2 separate regions of the Homo sapiens genome follow, and region 2 is linked to region 1. The links come from fine-mapping of genetic effects on gene expression. A gene starts in region 1. The other region holds a variant in brackets. All regions are shown on one strand. Distances are from middle to middle. Region 1 holds the start of ZNF528 (zinc finger protein 528). Region 2 has its middle 3.6 kb from the start of ZNF534.

Evidence for each region. PIP is the estimated chance that this variant, and not a neighbour inherited with it, causes the effect. A credible set is the group of variants that fine-mapping cannot tell apart.
Region 2: its variant is the best candidate, but not a certain one, in a credible set for the expression of ZNF528 in putamen (GTEx, PIP 0.63).

What each region holds. Positions count from the first base shown.
Region 1 is chr19:52,395,662-52,400,050 of GRCh38, forward strand. It overlaps ZNF528 (zinc finger protein 528), which reads left to right and starts at 2,188. Exons shown (of 7, transcript NM_032423.3): 1 at 2,188-2,243; 2 at 2,706-2,958. It overlaps ZNF528-AS1 (ZNF528 antisense RNA 1), which reads right to left and starts at 2,096. Exons shown (of 7, transcript NR_125345.1): 1 at 1,801-2,096; 2 at 1,534-1,606; 3 at 949-1,091; 4 at 704-838; 5 at 1-89. It also overlaps a transcript of ZNF880 not described here. RefSeq lists an enhancer at 1,500-2,699.
Region 2 is chr19:52,423,317-52,427,705 of GRCh38, forward strand. It overlaps the pseudogene DPPA5P1. Among named protein-coding and RNA genes, the nearest start is that of ZNF534, 3.6 kb to the right of the region's middle. The variant A/G (reference allele first, on the strand shown) is at 2,156.

The DNA of each region.
Region 1 (4,389 bases):
TGTATGTGTTCAACTTGCATCACAGCTGTGGGAGGCTGGAAGGCGGCCCATCCTGGGTTTCATGCTCCAGGGATGCATGGCACGTTGGCCTAAAGCAACAAAGGGGATCCTGTTCTGGGGATCTGGAACACATCCTGTCCTTTTCTCACCGGTCCCTTCCTCTCAGGATGTTGCTTTTCCAGCACATTCTATATTCATTCTTGGGAACTACAAGTGAGAAGTCAGATGCAACTGGGCCAATTCAACCCCACTTGAATGCTGTCCTGCAGTCTCTCCGCCAATCCAGATATCCCTTTTATTTTTATATTTTTTGAGACGGAGTCTCGCTCTGTCTCCCAGGCTGGAGTGCAGTGGCGCAATCTTGGCTTACTGCACCTCCACCTCCCAGATTCAAGCAATTCTTGTGTCTCAGCCTCTCGAGTAGCTGGGACTACAGGCGTGTGCCACCATGCCTGGCTAATTTTTTTTTTTTTTTTTTTTGTATTTTTAGTAGAGACTTCGTTTCACCATGTTAACCAGGCTGGTCTCTAATTCCCGACCTCAGGTGATCTGCCCTCCTCGGCCTCCCAAAGTATTGGGATTACAGGCGTGAGCCACCACGCCTGGCCCAGATATCCCCTTTAATAAAGCTAGTCCATTTACATGTGCACTGACCTCCCTGGATCTGGAGGTAGAGGCTGGTCTCAGGAGATTGAAGTAATACCTCGACTGGCAGAATCTCAGGGCAACATCATTGAGGTACAGCCAGTTGCATTTCACTAGGCTCAAGAGGATTGCTGCCTCAAGCAGGATAACCAGGCCTGCCTGGAGCAGTGCCGTAGTCCAGGATCCCAGTGACCTAGGTGAGAAGTTGGTACTCAGATCAAAGAAAAGTTCTTCAGGTGACCCCACTGTCTGCAGCCAATGGGCCTGCTTGTGGGCCTTATGTATTTGTGTTTCAAAAATAACCTGAGGGCTTGATGTGGGGGTCCTTATCTCCCATGCAAGGTGATTCATGCCTATAATCCGAGCACTTTGGTAGGAGCAGATGGGAAGACTGCTTGAGGCTAGAAGCTGGAGACCAGCCTGGGCAACAAAACCAGACTACATCTCTATTAAAAACAAAGCAACAAACAGTAGAAAATTAGCACAGTGGAGAGGCACAGGCCTTTACTCACAGCTACTCGGCAGGCTGAGACAGGGGGTCACCTGCCCAGGACCCCAGGAAGTCAAGGTTGCAGTGAGCTATGATTGCGCCACTGCATTTCAGCCTCGGTGGCAGAGACCCTGTCTTAAAATTTTAAAAAGTATTAAAAAACTAAGTTGGACCGGGCGTGGTGGCTACTCTGGAGGCTGGGGCAAGAGAATCACTTGAACCCAGGAGGCGGAGGTTACAGTGAGCTGAGTGCCTGCCACTGTACTCCCGCCTGGGGGACAGAGGGAGACGCTGTCTCAAAACAACAACAACAACAAAAAACTACGTCGTTTATGGCTATTTTTATAAGTTACTGGCTTTTTTTTTTTAAAGAATCGGTGACTTATCTTCACACTGGCCTTAGTCCTCCATGCCCAACACGATGTCCCTAGGAAAGTCTCTGGAATTGAGCACAGGGTTGACCTTCACCGTCTAGAGTGAATGGGGAAGATAAATGAAAAGTATTTATCTTCTATGGGCACTGGCATGAAATAGAACATTCTACCCTGGCAGGGTTTTGCATTTCACATTTTAGCTTGCATCATCCCCTTCACAGACAATTCCAAAGTGTGTTAATTCAATTCCTAAAGCTTCCCTTCCCTTCCTCCCTTCCCTTCCCTCCTTACTTTTCTTTCTTGTCCATTTATTTTCGGTTTTTTTCTCTTTCTTTCTTGGTTTTCTTTCTCTTTTTCAACTTCTCTTTCTTTTCTCTTTCTCTTTACTCTCTCTCTTCTCTCTCTTTCTGCTTCCAGGGTAGGTGGGACTTGAAATTCATTTTAATAGAAGGAATTTTCGTGGATATAATCTACAACCGATTTTGCTCTGCGCAGGTAAGATCCGTTTTCAGACCAAAACCCTGAAAACAAGCGCAGCCAGTCAAGCGAACGGAAGCGCAGGCCCGGCCCAGGCTTTGTCCCGGCCCGCCCTGGTCCCAGCCAGTCCGGCCTCTAGGATGCGCGCGCAATTTCGTGCAAACCCGGAAGCGGACCGCGGGGGGCGAACGCCTAGAGCGCAGTTTCCGGTAGACCCGGAAGCCGATTGCAGGGAGAAACTGTTTTCGCAGCAGTGCGTGAGTTTCCCTTTGTCTATGTTAAGTCTAGGCTAGCCAGTTCTTCTCTGCTTCTATACCCGGGAGCTGAGGGGCATGCAGACCTTGAAATCCCGGCACCGCTCCCTCCACCCCGAGTAAATTCAGACATCCTTTGAGAGTCTGGGAGTCGCTTTCTGCGTGTTAAAATCGCTTGGAGGCTGGTCGTGTGCCCGGTCTTTTTGTCATTTACCCACGTAGACACCTCCTATCGTGGGGTTTACCTGCTTCAAATCCTTTAGTAACCCCTACACACGCCCCGCACCACGTAAAATCCTCACTCTCCGTTCCCCTAGCCTCGCCCTTCTTTGCCCCTAGAGCTCAGCGCCCCAACAGGGCACGAGAGGCCTCGTCCTCTGCCCAGACCTGGTTTCTGCAGACTCCACCCCTCTCCTGACCCACTCCTGCCTTTTTGCTCCTTAATCTGGACCCTCTGTTCCCCAGGCCTCCCTTTTCCAGCCACCGGTTCTCCTGACCCCGAGTGTGGGGGGTGACTTCAGTCTCCTGACATCCAGTGTTCTCTCGAGCCAGTTTCCAGCCCACAGAAAATGAGCTCTTCCGGAAGTGGGCATCTTATTCCAATCCCCTCCCTGTGAATGTGTGGAGAAAAAGAGATGGGAACGAGGCAGAGGAAATAGAGAAATTTTGAAAGAGAAATGAAGAATGAGAGACCCATTAACAGAAGGCAAAGTAGAAGGTGAGTGAGGGGTTTGCAGAGGCACAGTGAAAGAAGGTGCCGAGAAAATAGCAGGGGAGAAAAGTAACTGTAAAAATATAGACAAACCTGGGTCTGTAGAAAGACGAAATTCAACAAGATAGGGAAGGCTTCTCAGACAGAGGGGGGAGAGGAGGAGGGATTTGGAGCCAGGTCAGACAGAGCAGCGTGGTGCTGGGACAGCCAGAGGGGGCAGCTGGTCACAAGGAGAACAGGGAGAACCACAGCAGGGGGAGGCCTGGGATCTAAGGGTGCCAGAGAGTGGGGACAGGGGTGTGTAATATCGAAGATGGAATTTAACAGGGAGACCCCAAGGGGAGCTGAGATGTGGGAGGAAAGAGGCAGAAATATATGGAGATTAGGGACAATGAAAGATTGGGCAGAAAGAGGAATAAGAGGTGAAACAAGTTGTAAAAATGGATCAGAACAGGTGGGAGAGAAGGAATAGAGGGAAGAATGGGACAAAGAGAAGAGGAGGGACTCAAAATGAACAGAATCCTAGGGGAAAATAGAGAAAAAAAGAGCTAGGAAAAAAGATGAGAATGAGAGATATGTACAGAATGAGGCAGGGAAACAGTAGTGAGGAAAGAGGGGGACCCTGGTTACAGATGAGTGGTGAGTTGATTGGAAATTATGATTGAATTGTGACATATTAATTTTTCTATAATATAAAATTTGTTTAGAACACATGAGGCTAGGAGCTGTGGCTCACACGTGTAATCCCAGTACTTTGGGAAGCTGAGGTGAGCGGATCACTTGAGGTCAGGAGTTGAGACCAGCCTGGCCAACATGTGAAACCCATCTCTAGTAAAAATACAAAAATTAGCTGGGCCTGATGGCCTGCGCCTGTAATCCCAGCTACTCTGGAGGCTGAGGCAGGAGAATCGCTTAATCCTGGGAGGCAGAGGTTGCAGTGAGCCGAGATCGTGTCACTGCACTCCAGGTTAGGTGACAGAGCAAGACTCCATCTCAAAAAACAAAAAACAAAAAACCACACATGAAGATGAGAATTGGAACACTATTTATAAGGCACTCTTCTCTTTTCTTGGGATGGACTAGGGTGTGAGTGTATAAGTTAGGAAAAACCAGTGTGTTTTTGTGTTCACAGTGAACACAATAAAGAGCGCTCAACACAGAATGCCTCATCTCTGGTCACCAAAGTAATATGGGAATTACTTGTCACCAACAAGCAGTTCTTCGTCAGACAGCACCTGGGTGTTCTGTAATTTTACTCAGTTTAACTGGTCAGTGTAGGAACAACCACAGACACATTTTGATCACTAAAGGTGAGGGATTCTCCTTTGGGTGTGAGAGTAGTAAAAACAGTGTGGTTTTTTCCTGTCTCAAACAGTAAGGGGAAGAATTTTCCAACAGGCCCACTCACCTGTCTCTAGGACTGTGTTCTTAGTAGTG
Region 2 (4,389 bases), 28 kb after region 1:
TGGTATTTTATTTTTAATACCAGCTTTCATGTGTAAAGAAATATGCTAGATTATTATTATTATTATTATTATTTTGAAATAACGTCTTACTCTGTCACCCAGGTATAGTGCAGTGGAGCGATGTCAGCTAAGTGGAACCTCTGTCCTGCAGCTTTAAGTGACCCTCCCACCCCAGCTGCCTGAGTAGCTGAGACTGCAGGTGCGTGCCACCACGGCCAGCTAATTTTCGTGTTTTGTAGAGACAGGGTTTTGCCATGTTACCCATGCTGGTCTCAAACTCCTGAGCTCAAGCAATCCACCTGCCTTGGCCTTTCAAAGTGCTGGGATTACAGGGATGAGCTGCCATGCCTGGCCAGTGAAATATACAAGATTGCTGTATGTTGGCCAGCGCGGCGGCTCATGCCTGTAATCCCAGCACTTTGGGAGGCCAAGGCGGGTGGATCACAAGGCCAGGAGTTCGCGACCATCCTGGCTAACACGGTGAAACCCCGTCTCTACCATAAATACAAAAAGAAATTAGCCGGGCGTGGTGGCGGGCGCCTGTAGTCCCAGCTACTCTGGAGGCTGAGGCAGGAGAATGGCATGAGCCTGAGAGGCAGAGCTTGCAGTGAGCCGAGATCGTGCCACTGCACTCCAGCCTGGGCGACAGAGTGAGACTCCGTCTCAAAAAAAAAAAAAAAAGATTGCTGTATGTTGATCTTATACCTTGCCACCTTTACATTTCCCTTGTTTAGAGATTTTTGTAGATTTTTTGGAATTTTCTACATAAAATTATTTCACCAGATTCTTATTGCTACCACACAGTGATTGGCTTAAAACAAGAAAAATTTATTTTTTTACAATTCTGTAGGTCACATATCTAATATGGGTCCACAGTTCTATGATTCTTCATGAATCTCCAGGCAAGAATTTTTTTTCCTTACCCTTTGTAGGTTCCAGAGGCCACTTACATCCTTTGACTCATGGTCCACTTCCTCCATCTTTTTTCTGAGATGGAGTTTCGCTCTTGTGTCCCTGGATGGAGTGCAGTGGCACGATCTTGGCTCACCGCAACTTCCACCTCCCTGATTCAAGCGATTCTCTTGCCTCAGCCTCACAAGTAGCTGGGACTACAGGCGCGTGCCACCACACCGGGCTAATATTTTTATTATTTTTAGTAGAGACGGGGTTTCACCGTGTTAACCAGGATGGTCTTGATCTCTTGACGTCGTGATCTGCTCGCCTCGGCCTCCCAAAGTACTGGGATTGCAGTCATGAGCCACCACACCCGGCCCACTTCCTCCATCTTTACAGGCGAGATAAAATCTCTTTATCCCTCTATTTTCAACACATCACAACTGTCCGTCCCTCAGGGTCTACCTGCATCCTTCTGATATTGAACCTTGTGATTCTATCACTTTGACCATATAATTCAGGATAATGTCTATCTAAAGATCCTTAACTAGACCACATTTGCAAACTCCTCTTTGCCACAGCCAGTCACACAGGTTACAGGGTTGAGGATATGAGAACATATTCAGTAACACAGGTTACGGGGATGACCTGTGCAACCATCATATTTTCTGAGAGTACACTATTTTTTTTCTCCTGTCCTCAAGCCACTCTCCTTCCTCATTGCTACCACACGGTGATTGGCTTAAAAGAACAAAAATCTATTCTTTTACAATTCTGTAGGTCATGTATCTAATATGGGTCCACAGTTCTGTGATTCTTCATGAATCTCCGAAAGTGCTGCTATTACAGCCCTCAGATACCACATCCAGCCTGTCACTTTTATTTCCTTTTCTTCCTTTATTTCACTGGCTGGAACTTTTCACACTGTGTGGAATAGTAGTGATAAAAGTGGACTTCCTTGCCTCATCCCCTACCCCTGGGGGAATCTTTATGTCTTTCACCAGAATGTATGATGATCCTTTTTAAATTGGTGGGTGATCTTGAGTTGAGGAAGTGTCCAATGACACTGTTTTCCATACCATCTGCAGTCTTGTTTTTCTGAAAAATTACTTTTTTTATTGGCAACTGTCAAAAGAGATATTCTCAAGACTTGGAACAAGGGCAGAAACCCCTAGACAGATGGTTTTTTCTTTTCTTTTCTTTTTTTCTTTTTTGTTTTTTTGAGAGAGAGTCTCGCTCTTGTTGCTCAGGCTGGAGTGCA[A/G]TGGTGCAGTCTTGGCTCACCGCAACCTCTGCCTCCCCGGTTCAAGCGATTCTCCTGCGTCAGCCTCCCAAGTAGCTGGGATTACAGGCATGTGCCACCACACCCAGCTAATTTTTTATTTTTAGTAGGCGGGGTTTCTCCATGTTGGTCAGGCTGCTCCCAAACTCCTGACCTCAGGTGATCCACCCACCTCAGCCTCCCAAAGTGCTGGATTACAGGCATGAGCCACTGCACCCGGCGTTTTTTTTTTTTTTTTTTTTTTTTGTTGTTGTTGTTTTTAATTCATCAGGCTGGAGCAGTGTTTAAACCAATCTGGAGTTACCATTCCAGCTATGGCCACAACCTGATCTCTACATCTTGGCCTTCTTCACATTGGCTGGAAGCTGGCTCACTTCACCCAAGGGCGTAGTTTGACGGCATTCATGCTTTCCACAAGTTTGAGCATCCCTCGCTCCTGGCACTGGCAGTGCCACTCAGCCATGGACTGGGGCATCCACTTGGTCTGGCACTTGTATAAATAGAAGCCGTAACCGACAACCTCGGTGAGGTCTGAAGACTCCAGAGCCTTCAGCACGAGCATGACCTTGCTCACCTGCTCGATGTAAGGGATTTGAGATCAGTCTGGGCCAAACATGGCTTCCAGCAGCTGCATCTGGACCTGGAGCACCTCTGGATCTTTCAGGAAGTTTCACCCATGGTGGGATATTTCTACATCTGGGATTGTTCCCAACTTGTAACCCTCACAACCAAAACTATGCTCCCGCATGAGCCGGGCCTAAGCGTTCATCAGTATTTTTGATTCCCACCAAATGTATGAAGATTACAATTTCTTCACAGCCTTACTTGTGAAGCAGGTTCACTGCACACTGGTTACCAACGTGTTGGAGTTGAGTGAGAGATAGTCCCATGAACACACAGTAAGTTACATGAAGTGAATTTGTTACAGATTGGCAGCAACGACAGCAGATGCCTGGGGTTCATGCATGCTGTTCCCGAAGGCTCAGGAAAACCACCCAGTTCAGATGCAGTCTGCGTGTGTGTTCCTCCCGCATCACAGCTGAGGGAGCCTGAAAGGCGGCCTGGCCCAGGTTTCATGCTCCAGGGATGCATGGCACGTTGGCCTAAAACAATGAAGGGCATCCTGTTCTGAGGGGACTGGAACAGATCCTGTCCTTCTCTGGTAAGGATGGACAGGATCCTGTCCTTCTCTGGTAAGGATGGACAGGATCCTGTCCTTCATCTCAGTATGTTGCTTTTCTAGCACATTTTATATTCATTCTTGGGAACTACAAGTGAGAAGTCAGACGCAACTGGGCCAGTTCAACCCCACTTGAGTGCTGTCTTGCAGTCTCCCCACCAACCCAGTATCCCCTTTAATAAAGCTAGTCAATTTATGTGTGCACTGACCTTCCTGGATCTGGAGGTAGAGGCTTGTCTCAGGAGATTGAAGTAATATCTTGACTGGCAGAATCTCAGCGCGACATCACTGAGGTACAGCCAGTTGCATTTCACTAGGCTCAAGAGGATTGCTGCCTCAAGCAGGATAACCAGGCCTGCCTGGAACAGTGCCATAGTCCGGGATCCCAGTGACCTGGGTGAGAAGTTGCTATTCAGGTCAAAGAAAATTTCTTCAGGTGACCCCACTGTCTCTAGCCAATAGTCCTGCTTGTGGATCTTACGTATTTGTGTTTCAAAACTACCTGAGGTCCTGATGTGGGGTCCTTACCTCCTGTGCACAGTGACTCATGCCTGTAATTTGAGTACTTTGGGAGTGTAGACAGAAGGAAAACTTGAGGCCAGAACTTGGACACCCGGCTGGGCAACAAAGTGAGACTCCATCTCTACAAAGTAATAATAATATATAAAACTAAAAAATTAGCACAGTCCAATGTCACAGGCCTGTACTTCCAGCTACTCGGGAGACTGAGGTAGGAGGTGCCCATGACCCCAGGAAGTCAAGGTTGTAGTGAGCTATGATTGTGCCACTGCACTCCAGCCTGGATGTCACAGGTTGATTCCCTGTCTTTAAAAAAAAAAAAAAAGTCTTAAACTAAATAATTTATACCTATTTTTAAAGTTATTGGCTTTTTTAAAAAGAGTTGGTGACCTGACTTCACACTGACCTTAGTCCTCTATGCCCAAGGTGGTGTCCCTAGGAAAGTTTCTGGAATTGAGCACAGGGTTGACCTCACCCTCTGGAGTGAATGGGGAATGTAAATGAAAAGTATTTCTAG